Regions from separate parts of the Homo sapiens genome. Here region 2 is linked to region 1. The links come from fine-mapping of genetic effects on gene expression. Tissue or cell type: visceral fat. Region 1 holds a variant in brackets; the other region holds the start of a gene. All regions are shown on one strand. Distances are between the middles of the regions.

The links. PIP is the estimated chance that this variant, and not a neighbour inherited with it, causes the effect.
Region 2: it holds the start of FAM177A1, and the variant in region 1 is fine-mapped to the expression of FAM177A1 in visceral fat (GTEx, PIP above 0.99).

What each region holds. Positions count from the first base shown.
Region 1 is chr14:35,192,173-35,200,278 of GRCh38, forward strand. The region is part of intron 5 of PRORP (protein only RNase P catalytic subunit); the gene reads left to right. All of the region lies in intron 5 of PRORP-PSMA6 (PRORP-PSMA6 readthrough), which reads left to right. Among named protein-coding and RNA genes, the nearest start is that of PRORP, 74 kb to the left of the region's middle. The variant T/G (reference allele first, on the strand shown) is at 3,996.
Region 2 is chr14:35,042,322-35,050,427 of GRCh38, forward strand. FAM177A1 (family with sequence similarity 177 member A1) reads left to right here and starts at 3,951. Exons shown (of 5, transcript NM_173607.5): 1 at 3,951-4,307. The coding sequence starts at 4,143. RefSeq lists enhancers at 3,471-3,670, 4,391-4,660, 4,761-4,820 and a silencer at 3,791-4,140.

The DNA of each region.
Region 1 (8,106 bases):
TGTAGGTACACTAGGATTTTTCCTGCCCCTCAAACATGCTGAATTTGTGCCTGCCTCCAAATCTTCGTACTTGCTATTTCTTTAATATTCTTCCATCTTCAAATGGCTGGATTATTATCAGCACCTCAAAGGTCTTTCTTGATTCTTCCAAAGTAACCTCATTCTGCCTAGTCACTTCTGTCTGTATTTTCAGTTACATCAGGATTGCCAAGTCTAGCCCAGGAACTAGAGATGAGTTTCAACATGGCAATGCAAAACTGTCTTTGCCTGGATTGTCTTTTTCAATATCAAGTTCCTTCATAGTAGTTTTTTGTGAAAAGAGACCATGCTGTTGTTGACCATTTATCCTAGAATGATCAGGGAGGGAATTCTAAAAGTCTCCATGACTCATACTTTACACATACCTTTGTAACTTCCATTTCAATAAATTAGGTTTTCTTTTCAGTTATCACTAATAATTGGTGCTGTGAGACCCCCTTGAGGAGGCAGGGACAACATAGTATAATAACTTTCCATTAAGAAAACAAAAGGAGGGGCCGGGCATGGTGGCTCACACCTGTACTGTAATCCCAGCACTTTGGGAGACCAAGGAGGGTGGATCACCTGAGGTCAGGCGTTCAAGACCAGCCTGACCAACACGGCGAAACCCTGTCTCTACTAAAAATACAAAAATTAGCCAGGCATGGTGGCGCGTGCCTGTAATCCCAGCTACTAGGGAGACTGAGGCAGGAGAATCGCTTGAACCCGGGAGCCAGAGGTTGAGTGAGCCTAGATTGTGCCACTACAGTCCAGCCTGGGTGACAGAGTAGAAAAAAAAAAAAAAGAAAAAGGATATGAAGTGGAAAGCTTCTAATGCTGCATTTTCTCTCTCATTCTCTCTTCCCCCACATACCTACCCATAATTCAGTCCTAATGCTTTTGTTCTTTGTTCCTTTTGCAGCTTGCATTTTGGATTTTCAGTGTTCATAAGCTCCTCTAATAGAAGATGTATGGGGGGAAAAGCACATCATTTTAGTTAATCATGCTAGTTCTTCAAAATTCTGCTCCCTATTTCTGTGGATAACTGAGAATTGGTTAAAATGGCTTCAGCAGAATGAAAATTTATAATGTAATTTAAAAGAATTATGGCTGACACCAGCACTGAATGCTTTCATTCTTATAGCATGCTTGGGGCATTGAATAGAAAGTGGTTTGGTGAAAACACTGTAGAATTTGTTTTGATTGCCATCTGTTAGTTGGTTTTACTACAGTGAGAGAAAAATAGAGGCACAAGTATTGGTCATTAAAGGTCATTTGGTAAAGTGTTTACTTGACAGTAAGTTCTTATTTTTTCTGCCACTCAAGTTATTTTATTTCTTTCTGTTGATTTACATAACCTCTTGTAAAAGTTTCAATACCATAAAGCACCTAAGATACAATAAACTATGCTCAGTATTTTTGTGTGTATATAATCCCGGGTGTATTTTTTTTTTTTTTTTGCCCCAACTGTAGAAATGTGAGTTTCTCGATCCCCATGCTTGAAATTATGTTTCAATAACGTTAAAGTGGGAAGGAAACTTAGAAATACCCTATTATGTTTACAATAGGAAATGTTAAATATTGAAGTAGAATTTTTATCATACCTCCTTGACTTTTAAATACTCTTTTCCATATAATTGTTTCTCCCGTTTAAAGACTCTCTCTTAACATCTGGCTTTAGAGGTAGAATGTCTTGTCCCTTATGTCCCAAAACTTGGGTGTCTTATTCACACTTGGGTGTCCTTCTTTGAAGAACATACTGTCTTCATGTCTGCTCTGAGAAGCTGTTTGAGGAATTTTTTTTTCTTTTTCAAATATATATATGAGGAGCAGCATATTAGAGTTTTTATGCATGGATTGAAAGTGGAGGGATGGGATTACTACTAGAGGCAGGTATGCTTACATTAGGGAGAAGAGAGAGACTGCTGTCCAGGTTGAAAGAAAAATGCTGCCATAAGAAGTCAAAAAGTCCTTCACTTCCCTTGTAAGTTGTATTCCTAGGTATTTTACTCTCTTTGTAGCAATTATGAATGAGAGTTCACTCATGATTTGGCTCTCTGTTTGTCTATTATTGGTGTACAAGAATGCAACCCAAATGCTCATCAGTGATAGACTGGATAAAGAAAATGTGGCATATATACACCATGGAATACTATACAGTCATAAAAAAGGATGAGTTCATGTCCTTTGCAGGGACATTGGGAAAGCTGGAAACCATCATTCTCAGCAAACTAACACAGGAACAGAAAACCAAACACCTCATGTCCTCACTCATAAGTACAAGATGAACAGTGAGAACACATGGACACAGGGAGGGGAGCATCACACACCAGGGCCTGTCGGGGGATGAGGGGCTAGGGGAGGGATAGCATTAAGAGAAATACCTAATGTAGATGACGGGTTGGTGGGTGCAGCAAACCACCATGGCACATGTATACCTATGTAACAAACCTGCACGTTTGGCACGTGTATCCCAGAACTTAAAGTATAATTAATTAATTTTTTTTTAAAAAGTCAAAAAGTGCAACCTTCTGGATCCAGCTCAGCCTTCCAGCAAACAGCTCAGTAGCCTCAACAGCCATTACTGTATTAAAGAAAGTAGCATCCAATATATAATCTTCAAAATTATAAAGAAAGTCTTAAACTATGACTAGTATATCCTATTTCAAAAGATAGGCAAATTGTGATTTCTTTTTTGAAAATTTATAATTGTAAAGAAAATCGTAAATTGTAACTATCTGCATAATTAAGAAGGCAAGAAAATCATAATGCTTTTCAGAAAGTTCCTCTCACACATGATTTTGTTTTATTTATCTTGAAATTCATTTATATGAAACTTATATTTGAACAGTGTTCAGATAAATGTGGTATTAGCATATGCAGTGTTTTATTATATAAAATATTTTAATTATAGATATTAGAAAACATTAACTAGGCCATACTCTTTTATGCCATACGTGGGAATGTAAGTTAATTCAGCTTTATGGAGTCTGTTTGGTACTGTATCTATTCAAAATATACAGTGATGTATCAGTTCCACTTTCAGAAATCTGTTCTGCAGAAATATTTGCACAGGTACATAAAGATACATAATTTTCATTGTATCTCTGTAATAGCAAAAAATTGGAAATTATACAGAAGCCAACTGAGTACTGGAGGTGAGTTTACTGACATAGAAAGGTACCCATGATACATGAAAAAGACAAGTTGAAAACAAAATATACAGGATGATCCCATTTTTTGAAAATAAAAAAAAAATTACTGTGTGTGTTTTTATGTATATTCAGGGAAAAAAGCCTGGAAGTAGAAATTCTCCACTGACCAGTCACTTCTTCCTTTATATAGTTATGTATTTTTACAAATACTTTTTCTAGTTCTTTTTAAAAACTCACACATATTTTAAAGATAAGAAACTAAAATAAATCTTTAATGGTATAAACTTAAACACTAATGTTTCTGCTCTTCTGCAGAATATTAATTTTCAAACTTGAGTTTGAGAAACTCAAAAACAAGCAATTTTAGAAGTCAGATAGGTCTTTTAATGATTCTTAGGGTAGAAATCTATTTTTTTAACTATATATGTGAAACTTAGGAAACTGGAACTTAGTTCTAAGAGTGATATACTTCTTTCATTTTCAAAAAAGAAGCTTCTCATGTTTTCATAACCAACAGTTATGTTATCAAGGAGTTACTTTAGTATTATAATAGTTTAAATTACCTAGTTATGACTTTAAGAAACATATGTTAAGGAGTCCAAGGAGAATGTATAAATTGGGAAAAACCTCAGACTTAAAGTAATTATATGTAATATCAAAGCAATGTAATTGTAAGCTTCTCCCTAGGGAATCTGAAATATCCCCCAATAAATATCATCCAAACAAGTCACTGTTAATGTGGATTCTTGGAAGAAGATCTAAAAATAAATAAGTCAATAGAAATTATAAACTTGGGCTGTGAATCTTAAAACAACTAATCAG[T/G]TAGCAGCATTTAAGTGCTATTTCAGGCCAGGCATGGTGGCTCATACCTGTAATCCCAACACTTTGGGAGGCCGAGGTGGGAGGACCACTTGAGCCCAGGAGTTAGAGACCGGCCTGGGCAACATAGTGAGACCCCCCTGCCCCCTGCCATGTCTACGAAAAATAAATTTTTAAAAATAAGCTGGGTATGGTAGCACACACCTGTAGTCCCACCAACTCAGGAGGCTGAGGCGGGGGGAGGATCACTTGAGCCCTGGAGATCTAGGCTGCAGTGAGCCGTGATTGCGCTGATGCACTCCATCCTGGGTAACAGAGTGAGACCCTGTCTCAGAAAATAAATATTTTCATCACATGGGGAAAAGTAAATCTAATCATGACTCCTTAGTTTTAAGGAGTTACTGCTGGGTAGTCAAGGGTGATATAAGTGACTTGAGGAAACAAATTTGCATTAGTGGATGCCAATCCAGAATTCACTAAAGAACACAAAAGAATGGTTCTTGGGTTTTTTTCTTACTATTCATTTTTCATGACATGGCAACTCAGGGAAGTCATATTGCCCTAGGTCAAACAGTGCCAGGCTGACTACTTCCTTTTGTCATGTATCACTTCACCCACTCCTGCCTTGACATGTGTTAAGAGTTATGTTTTGTCATGTGACTGCTGGGATCGTCTGCATCACTCAGAATTATTCTTACCAACTGCTAATGAAGTTAATGATCAACTGTCAGGTGGGTTTTTAGTGAAGTGATCAAGGGCATAACTAGCAAGATGAATGGAGCCAGGCAAAATTTCTATAGTGATTTGGCTTCATAGTCCTTTCTTTTCAAATGTCCCAGAAAGGAACATTCTGCATAGTGTTTGAAACAAGATTTCCCCAATTGTTGTAGAAGTCAAGTGATCCAGTGTCTTTGAACAGCATTAAAAACACTGTGTTGCCAAGCTCCCATATCTTTTCTCTCTCTGGCAAAATCCTAATAGCAAGTTGATTTCCCATCACTGATGTGTCATTGATAATGTCTGTGTGATAACCATTTAGGGTGTGGTGAGATTGTCTCGTGAGTCATTATTGTGTATATCTTGCTTCCATCACAGTGTTTTAAAACACTCTCATTGAGAGTGTGGTAGGAAGAGGCCACTTATGAAAATATAATATCCATTTTAACAAGAAAAGTTTAAATATTTGTTGTCAGTAAGGTAAACAGCAATTGCAGAGTGAGTAGTAAATTTACTTAAACTGTTTATAAAGCTATATAAATTATTCTTACCTAATTATTACAGTGGTAACACTTTAATCATAATTTTCTGGTAATGTTTATTTTAAAACAGCATTTTTTTCCTTTTAAAATTGTTTCTGTTTCACAATTTTCACTAATATAAAGGCTGATTTTTATCCCAGTCAAATACGATTAAGATCAGTTGATTAAGATCAGTTCAGATCTTAGATTTCTTTTGCAGTGATTTAGACATGGCTTTTTTTCTAGATAGTATTAGGAAGGGTATATTGTTCCTTAGAGTATTCACTCTGCCAACTCAAGTGGATACTCCTTATTGGTATATTATTTCTACCCCATTTTGTCTTATGAAAGATGTAAGATGGTTATAATATATGTGATACAGAAAATAAAATAAATTTAAAATAAGTTAAAATAAAGTTAATGTAAAAAGGGTACAAAGGGAAAATAAGCTTAGGGAAATAAAAGGTTTAAGGTTGGTGCACAAAATGCATATGGTGAAGTGCTCTATTAATTTGGCTGTAAATTCTGTCAGCAAACCTGAAGATGATAACATGATCACTTAAGAGCAGGGGCTCATGCTTTTATCTGCTTGCACATCATTTGTAAGTACCTCACATTCTCATCATAAACATTTCTCTTTCCTAAAGAGATTCTCAAAGGAGGTAGGCTAAGAGCAGTAGCAGAAGGGAGAAATCAGAGCTTTGGAGAATGGGGAAATTTGAAGGAACACCCAATTCTGGTATATCTTCCAAAGGAGCTATTTCCACTATAAGACTCATTCATTTATAGGCTTCACATAATTCATAAGATTAAATAGAAACAAATTGTTCAGAGAATGTTCCATTATTCCTAATATTGAAACCAAAGGGATTTTTCCTGTGAACCCTCAGAGGGCAGGGCCATGTGGGCACTCTGAGTACTATTCACAACATTCTTGTTACGAACCGGTGAATGGATTGTGTAAGCATCAGCAGTAAAGGAGTCAGGAGAACAGTGGGTGAGCTTGAGAGAGGCTTCTGAAAGTACTAAACAGGCCTCAATACCTCAGCAATAACTAATGCTAGGAAGTTGGTGAGAAGACTAAATAGGAGGACTCCTGCCCTTTGACTCTTGGAAAATAAATTTTTAAGCTGATTTTTTCACTTCAGATCCATGGTAATCCACAGCAGGGCTAGACCTTGTTTTAAAATTTTATAATTATAATTTCATTTCAGTTCTTTAAAAGTTTGGTTACAAAAAGAAGCATATGTCCCTAATATTACTGCTGTGTAGTAAGCACTCTGAAGAGGTACTTATGTAAGTTCTAGTATCAGAATTGCCTTCGATGTCTGTTAAATAATTATAGTGAGGGCTGGGCGCAGTGGCTCACGCCTGTAATCCCAGCACTTTGGGAGGCTGAGCGGGCAGATCACGAGGTCAAGAGATTGAGACCATCCTGGCCAACATGGTGAAACCCCGTCTCTACTAAAAATACAAAAATTAGGCCGGGCGTGGTGGCTTACGCCTGTAATCCCAGCACTTTGGGAGGCCGAGGCAGGTGGATCACCTGATGTCAGGAGTTTGAGACCAGCCTGACCAACATGGCGAAACCCTGTTTCTACTAAAAATACAAAAAATTAGCTAGGCCTGGTGGCGGGCACCTGTAATCCCAGCTACTCCGGAGGCTGAGGCAGGAGAATTGCTTGAACCCGGGAGGCGGAGGCTGCAGTGAGCCGAAATCGTGCCATTGCACTCCAGCCTGGGCAACAAGAGTGAAACTCCTTTGAAAAAAAAAATACAAAAATTAGCTGGACATGGTGGTGCGTGCCTGTAGTCCCAGCTACTCGGGAGGCTGAGGCAGGAGAATCGCTTGAACCCGGAAGGCGGATGTTGCAGTAAGCCGAGATTGCACCACTGCACTCCAGCCTGGCGAGAGAGTGAGACTCCATCTAAAAAAAAAAAAAAAAAAAAAATTATAGTGAGTACTTGCTATAGTTTGAATGTGTCCACTCCACATTCATGTTGAAACTTAATTCTCAATTTCACAGTATTAAGAAGTGAGGCCTTTAGGAGGTGATTAGGTCATGAGGACTCTGCCCTCGTGGATGGGATTAGCACCCTTATAAAAGGGCTTGAGGGAGTGAGTTCAGCTCTTTTTGTCCTTCTGTTCCTTTTGCCTCACTGTGTGAGGACACAGTGTTCAAGGTGCCATCTTGGAAGCAGAGACCCAAGGTCTTCACCAGATACAGAACCTGCTGGCATCTTGATCTTAGAATTCCTAGCCTCCAGAACTCTGAAGAAACAAATTTCTGTTCTTTATAAATTACCTAGTTTCAGGTGTTTTGTGTGAACAGACTGAGACCGTAGTATTTCTTTAATGTGAAAAAAGAAGCTTGCAAAGTCAACCTGACATCATTTAGTTTAGTCAGTCTTACCTAGACTATAAATAAGTAGAAATTGCTTATGCATGTAAAGTTACAGAATTAATTGAAATGGAAACTTTCCAATTATAATAGGTCTCTCTTTCTCCATGTTATGTTATGAAAGCCTCTGTTATATCAGGAAAACCCCCTGAAAATTTTCTCATCTGTTGAGGAAAGAGATAACAGGTAATCTTATTGGGTTTAAGCTTGGAGGATAAATGGAAACAGCCATTCGTCTTCAAATGAACCAAAATAATCCTGCAAGATAAAAATACAGTATTTTAACAGTATTAATATTTTACCAAAAGAACTTGAAGGTGAAAATCCCAAAAGCCACGACAATTCCATGATTGTGAAAATATTAAGTATGCAAAATTTTTTGTTTGTTTGTTTGTTTTTTTCTTTTGAGACAGAGTCTCACTCTGTTGCCCAGGCTAGAGTGCTGTGGCACGATCTTGGCTCACTGCAACCTCC
Region 2 (8,106 bases), 150 kb before region 1:
AAGATCGTGCCATTGCACTCCAGCTCAGGTGACAGTGCAAGACTCTGTCTAAAAAAAAAAAGGATTATATCTTTATATTTGTTATAGATTCTTATCAGAAGACACTCAGGGTTCTACAGATTTTAGATGAAGATGCACAGCTCTCCAACATTAAAATTACTGAGTCTAGCATAGTGTGCAAAGAAAGCTAGTTATTTTATGCCTAATACCATACAGAAAATTCTAGGCCGGGCATGGTGGCTCACACCCGTAATTCCAGCACTTTGGAAGGCTGAGGCGGGTGGATCACTTGAGGCCAGGAGTTTGAGACCAGCCTGGCCAACATAGTGAAACCCCTTTCTGGGAAAATACAAAAATTAGCTGGGTGTGGTGATGTGTGCCTGTAGTCCCAGCTTGGGACCCGAGGTGGGAGGATGACTTGAGCCTAGGAGATCGAGGCTGCAGTAAACCAAGAGCACGCCACTGCAATCCAGCCTGGCTGACAGAGTGAGACTGTCTCAAAAAAAAAAAAAAGAAAATTTTGGTGATTGGATATCACTGGTATATTCTCACCACACACACACACACACACACAGACACACACACACACAAAATGACCAAATTTTAATTAACAAAACAAAACCTTACATAACATCAAATCTAAAAATTCACTTGGTATTTTCATCTGCTTCTTACATATAGAGCTTTAAAGCTTACTAAAAGACTTTTAAAAAGAAACATACTTTACTCATTTCCATCCCAATCTTTCCAAACAACATACTCACCTTTGGTGTGGAAATTTCTTGCCTTGCTAACACTTACTGGCCTAGTATTTTTTGACATTTTCATTCTCAGTGGGGCGGAATGGCTAAGTGTGTAGGTGGTGGAATCAGAATGCCTGGGTTTTAATCCCAGCTCTGCTGCTTACCAGCTGCGTCACTGGAGCAAGTTGCTTAACTTCTCTTTGTTTCCTCATCTATAACATGTTGGTAGTTACAGTAATACTTCAGAATTGTTGTGAGGAATAAGAGTTAATACAAAGAAAGCAAAGTACCTGGCATATTGTGCTCCATAAGTGAAACCACTACCATGATTTTAATAACTTATTCAGCCTGGGCAACATGGCAAAACCTCATCTCTACAAAAAATATAAAAATTAGCCAGGTGTGATGGTACACGCCAGCTACTCAGGAGGCTGAGGTGGGAGGATCGTCTGAGTCTGCAGTGAGCCATAATTGTGCCACTGCACTCCAGCCTGGGTGATACAGTAAGGCCCTGTCTCAAAAAAAAAAAAAAAATTTCTTTATGCTTAGACTGAACCTAAAATGCATTTTTATTTTTATCATCTTTTTTTCTTGTGCATTATTTTTGATGAAAATATATTGTCCTGTTTGATGGATAACTTAAAAAATTCTCTATCAAAGTATATATATGTAGCTATGTTAAAACCCTAAGAATGTCTTGTTTATTTGATGAACATTCCTGGTTATCAAATTTTATTCAGATTTATTTTCCCAGCCTTACGCAGAAATGGTTCAATCCAAATTTACCTTTTTAGCTCTATATGTATCATTAAATGATAAATTTAGACCACATTATGTTTTCAAGTAGATAAATTATCATAATACTTGAATTTATTTTTGTCATAGTGCTACGATACAATTTATGTTACAAAGTGAAAGAAGGAAAAATTTGGCACATTGCCTTGGTGCCTACTTTTGGTTGAGCTATAACAGTTTGGAAATAATGACAAAAATATAAATGTCCAAAATAAAACCATTAGAATTTCTATGCTTTTATGTTGCTTTGAGTTGTTGATTTGTTTTGTTTTTGTTTTTTTGAGACGGAGTCTCGCTCTGTCGCCCAGGCTGGAGTGCAGTGGCGCGGTCTCGGCTCACTGCAAGCTCCGCCTCCCGGGTTCACGCCATTCTCCTGCCCCAGCCTCCCGAGTAGCTGGGACTACAGGCGCCCGCCACCACGCCCGGCTAATTTTTTGTATTTTATAGTAGAGACGGGGTTTCACCGTGTTAGCCAGGATGGTCTCGATCTCCTGACCTCGTGATCCACCCGCCTCCGCCTCCCAAAGTGCTGGGATTACAGGCGTGAGCCACCGTGCCCAGCCCGAGTTGTTGATTTGTAATAAACTGCTCTTCAATTGGATATTTGTGTTAAAAATAACTTTTTAGGAAATACTTCCAGTTCACGTTAGAATGTAACTTGTACTTTGAATTTTCAGTAAACTAAGAAATACACATGTAAACTGTGAAAATATATTCTGCTTCGGCAATGAAAATTGTAATTTGAGGCCAGGCGTGGTGGCTCACGCCTGTAATCCCAGCACTTTGGGAGGCTGAGGTGGGTGGATCATCTGAGGTCGGAAGTTCGATACTAGCCTGGCCAACATGGTGAAACCCCGTCTCTACTAACAATACAAAAATTAGCCGGGCGTGGTAGTGCACAACTGTAATCCCAGCTACTTGGCAGGCTGAGGTGGGGGAATCGCTTGAACCCGGGAGGCGGATGTTGCAGTGCGCCAAGATTGCGCCATTGCACTCCAGCGTGGGTGAGACCCCATCTCAAAAAAAAAAAAAAAGAAAAAAAAGAAAAAGAAAATTGTAATTTGATATTTAATTGCCACTTTGGAAAATAAAATCATGCATTTATAAATATCCCACAAAGTTTTAGTAATAAAGATTGTTGATTGCCCTGCTTGCCAGTAAGAAGGAAGAGATTTTGAATACATATAATGCAGAACTGTGTTGTTTATGAATGCCAATTCATGAAGTCTTAACAATTGGTTCTTTATTTTTGTTTTCAATTTATGGCCGAGTTTGGTTTTGCTGTTTTGGACTGTCTCAACTCCCTGCTGATGCCACCATACAGAGTCAGATCAGGTACTAACTTGTTTACTTCAGCAGCAACCTAACTTGATTTTATTACCAGGATAGAGAGCAATATGGATTTCCAACTAGTTTTTAAGGCGTAGATGGTTTTCAAATGATTATTTGTTTTTTAAAGTTTTTGGTTTTGTTTTTAGGTTCCAGTTATACATAGAATAGGAAGTGTACAATAACATTAGGCAGAGGGTAAGGAGAAGAACTTTGGCACAGAAGAGAAAGGAATATTTAATATTTGGGCCTGCTGTTGCTATGATGAAAAACATTTACAAGGTCATACAACTTTAGGGAGCATTTCTGAATTGAGACTAGTATGAAAATGGAATTTAAAGTATCAAATGAAGCCTCCCATAGCCAAAATAATGTATGTTTTGGTTTTGCCCCCTACATATTTGTGAAAACTTTCATGCTAAAACAACAATATACCATTTACCTGCAGAACCTCAGACTTGTTTGATGTTGAAGTCATGCAGTAATTGCATGATTTTTTACTTTCGTTGAACATTGCGAAAGACGGAAAAAATCTGGGACGCCCCCTCTAACATACGCACACGACTTTAAGACACAGATAAAACATTCCTTACATTTGTCAAGATGGAAGCTTACTACTGCCCTTTGCTCTCCTTCAGGTCTTTTCACTTAACACTTTCTACAGTTATACTTAAGTATTTCAGACAAGAGTAAGCAAATATCACGCCTGGGGTTCTTCTTTCGAGGGTATTTTGGCTGGACTGTCACCCACGTTTGGAATGGAAAGTGCAGCACGAGCCGTACATTTTACATTTTTCAGCAACCACATCCCATCACTAGCCTTTGAAGTACAACGACACAGCTGTCTTCATTTTACAAGTGCAAAAACCGAGGTCCTGCGGGGTGACTGCCCCAGACGCCGCTGGTGACGGGCTGCGCCGAGGTCGAGACGCCAGGCTTCAGGTACACGTACCAGAAATGACGTCACAGGCGGTGCCAGGCGGGGATCCACGAGCTCTGGATGCTTGCTTGGCCGGAAGCGACGCCCCGCAAGGACCCGCCCCGCCCCGCCCCGCCCCGCGCGAGCCGGTAGTTGCGCCTCCCAGACTGCAGTTGGCCAGCTCTCGGGGTGCGGAGCCCGGCGGGCTAGGCGAGGCGCGGGCTGGCCCCGCCCCTCAGGCCGGCGAGTCCCCTTCTCAGAGACTTGGCTAGGCGCGGCGCGAGGCGGGCGCTGGGCGGGTGAGTCCCACTTCCCGACAGCCTGGCTCGGCCAGCGACTGGGCGGGGAGACCAAGGATGGAAGTGGGCTTACCGGCCATTACCCTCTTTCTCACCAGCGCCAGCAGCCCTGTGGTGGCGACGACGATGGACCAGGAGCCAGTGGGCGGTGTGGAACGAGGAGAAGCCGTCGCAGCCTCGGGAGCTGCGGCCGCCGCGGCATTCGGGGAATCTGCAGGGCAGGTAGGTGGGGCCGCCGAGGCTGACGTCCGGGGAGCCGAGCCGCCTCCTTGCCTTCTCCGCGGGCCGCTCTTTTAGCCTGCGCGGCCGTCCTCCGAGCAGGCCGCCCCAGCTTTGGAGTTCCTCCTCACTGCACCCCTGTTTCTGCTCACTGAGACCAGCTTGTGGGAAGGAGCGCCCCCCGCCTCACTCACCAACCCCTTGGCTGGCAGCACAGCAGACTCTGGGGCGGCCTCGGGTTCCTGGGGTGATAGTCCAGCTTCTGGTCTACCAGAGGAAGAAGAAAGGCGTGTCCCCCAAAGGCTGTCCTTGCAGTAGCTGGAAGCCAGGTGAGGGCGGCTTCAACCACTTCTCAGTCTCTTCTGGTGCGAGCGCCTGCCTGGGCATCTGCCCTTTGCTTGGCATATGCCAAACGTTTACCAGCTTTAATTCACTGGATCCTTACAGTAACCGCTCGAGGTGGGTGTTAGCCCCATTTCACCGCCGAGGCAACTAAGGCTCCGAGCTGCGCTGTCCAACATAAATAGAATGCAAGCTGCATTGAAAATTGTAATTTAAAATTTTCCAGTAGGCACGTTTTAAAAAAGTGAAACCGATATTAATTTTAATAGCATATCTTATTTAACCTAATTTATCAAAACAATTTCAACCTAAAATTACTATGAAAGTTATTAATGAAGTATTTGCATTCTCTTTTGGAGTCTTTTCTAAGTCTTTTAAATCCTGGGTGCATTTTACACGCATAGCATATCGCAGTTCTGGCTGACCACATTTCAAGTGCGCATTAGCCACATGTGGCTAGTGGTTACTGTATTGGACAGCGCTGGTTTAGAGAGTTAACGTTTCTTGCAACTTTTCAGTATTAGACAAAAAGACACTTTGGGAGGCCAAGGCGGGTGGATCACCTGAGGTCAGGAGTTCAAGACCAGTCTGGCCAACATGGTGAAACCCCTTCTCTACTAAAAATACAAAAATTAGCTGGGCGTGGTGGCGCTCGCCTGTAGTCCCAGCTACTCGGGAGGCTGAGGCAGGAGAATTGCTTGAACCCTGGAGGTGGAGGTTGCAGTGAGCCGAGATCACGCCACTGCACTCCAGGCTGGAGACAGAGCGAGACTCCGTCTCAAAACAGCAACAACAACAACAACAACAACAACAACAAAAAAAAAACCCTTGAGTTGCTCATGTATGTAACTCTTCCCATCCTCCATGAGAATGAAGCTTTTTCAGTAGCTTCATTTTTGAGACTAAGTACCTGAATGTTAGTAAGACATTTCCCCCAAACTGTGAGTATATCTCTGTGTATCTCTTATAGTATAAGATGTCGTTTGCATTAACAAAAGCTTATCCAGCCTGGGCAACAGAGCAAGAACCCATCTCTTAAATAAAAAACTAAAGAAACCCCAAAAACAAAAAACACAACTTTCCCACATACCAAACTCTATATGGAATACGTTTTTTCCCTCCTACTTAAGAAGGGGATTCAGGGGACAACATGAATTGATAAGGAAGCCACGTCATTTTCAGTTGAGTTGAGACCTATTGTTGGCAAGTGCACTTACACTTAACCTTTGAGTCCATGGTGCTTGATATGTTTTTCAATTTGATTTTTCCTGTTGTTACTAGAATTGTTTTTTTAAAATCACTACCTCCGCCCTGGATCTAATAGCAAAGTAAACACACGTGTACTTATATACCAGCTAAATGTTGTTTGAAGTGAGAGGCTCTTTGATTGGGGTTAGTGATATTCTGTTGTTTTCACATTCTTGGTTAACAAATAAGTACTTAACCAGTAAAGAAGGCTGTAGAACAAAAGATAAAAATTCACAGGAATACCCCACCACCACCCTTTCTTCATGTTCTCATTCCCCAAAGGTAACTATTAAGTTTTGGTGTAGTCTCTCTGGAATTTTATCATTCAATATTATATATTTCTTATATATTATATATATTATTAAATATTAAATATCTCTTCTTTCTTGTTAAACACCAATGAGTTCCATTTTCTGATTTGCCCTTTGTGCTTTCAGATTCACATTCCTGAATCAGAAACATCTTTGGGAACTCCAGTTCTATGCCCAGGGGGTTGAGCACAGTAACAGGGAAGTGGACATCTCAGGAGATGGAGAGGCCTCTATCTTACACTTCTTCCCAAGTTTGGCAGAACTGAGAAATCCCTAGTGCAATGTAGGGAAAGGGAGTAAGAGATAGGAGATAGGGTCTAGAATTAGGCCTCCAAACAGGCCATCCAGTACCTGTTGTGACATTCTTTTTTTTTTTTTTTTTAAGACGGAGTCTCACTCTGTGGCCCAGGCTGGAGTGCAGTGGCATGATCTTGGCTCACTGCAACCTCCACCTCCCGGGTTCACGCAATTCTCTTGCCTCAGCCTCCTGAGTAGCTAGGACTACAGGCGCACGCAACCACATCTGGCTAATTTTTGTATTTTTAGTAGAGGTGGGGTTTCACCATCTTGGTCAGGCTGGTCTTGAAGTCCTGACCTTGTGATCCACCTGCTGCCTTGGCCTCCCAAAGTGCTGGGATTACAGGTGTGAGCCACCGCACCCGGCCTCCTGTTGTGACATTCTATCCAGCAGCTTCTCTGAATAGACTTTTAACCAGAATCTCAGCCTCAATGTTTTTAAAGGAGTTAAAATTTCAGTACCACTCAGTGATTGATTTATTTGGTACCTCTGTTACCAAGCACTTACTATGTGCCAGGAACTCTAGGCTGAAAGATATAGCAGTACCTACCCCCATGTTGCTAATAGCCTAGTTGGGGAAGATGACAAAGAATAAATTCTAAGTCTAGTATGTGTTTTAAAGAAGTCTGGGTGCCATGGGAGTATATACAAAAAATTGCCATTAAAACCAGATCCTGAGCTGGGCAGAGTGGCTCACACCTATAATCCCAGCACTTTGGAAGGCTGAGGCCAGTGGATCACTTGAGGTCAGGAGTTCGAGACCAGCCTGGCCAACGTGATGAAACCCTCATCTCTACTAAAAATAGAAAAATTAGCTGGGCATTATGGCTCACGCCTGTAGTCCCAGCTACTCGGGAGGCTGAGGCAGGAGAATCGCTGAAACCCAGGAGGTAGAGGTTGCAGTGAGCCAAGATCGCACCACTGCATTCCAGCCTGGATGACAGAGCAAGACTCCTTTTCAAAAAAGAAAAAAACAGATCCTGAGAATAAAGATAAGCACATTTATAGTTTGGTTAACTATAAAATGGAGTAAAATGTTAATTGACATGGTACCTCATAATTTCCTGGTGTTATGAAACTATCTTTCAGATCTTTGGGGTTCGTTATGGAATTTGCATAATTGGCAGTGAAATTTTTCTTACTTGCAGATTTATAAAATGAAGCATTTGGAAAATTCACAGTGTAACTTTTTTTGTTTTTTGAGACAGAATCTCACTCTGTTGCCCAGGCTGAAGTTCATGGCGCGATCTCGGCTCGCTGCAACCTCCACCTCCCGGGTTCAAGCAATTCTCCTGCCTCAGCCTCCTGTGTAGCTGGGATTATAGGCACGCTCCACCGCGCCTGGCTAATTTTTGTATTTTTTTAGTAGAGGTGGGATTTCACCATGTTAGCCAGGGTGGTCTCACACCCTTGACCTCAAGTTGTCTGCCCGCCTCAGTCTCCCAAAGTGCTGGGGTTACAAGCATGAGCCACCATGCCCAGCCACAGTGTAAATTTTATTTGTAATTATTGGATTTCTGGTTCAAGTTGATGTTTGAAAAATAAAAAAAGAAAAATATTTTAAAAATATAATTATTGGGAATTTTGTATCAAATGATTTTCT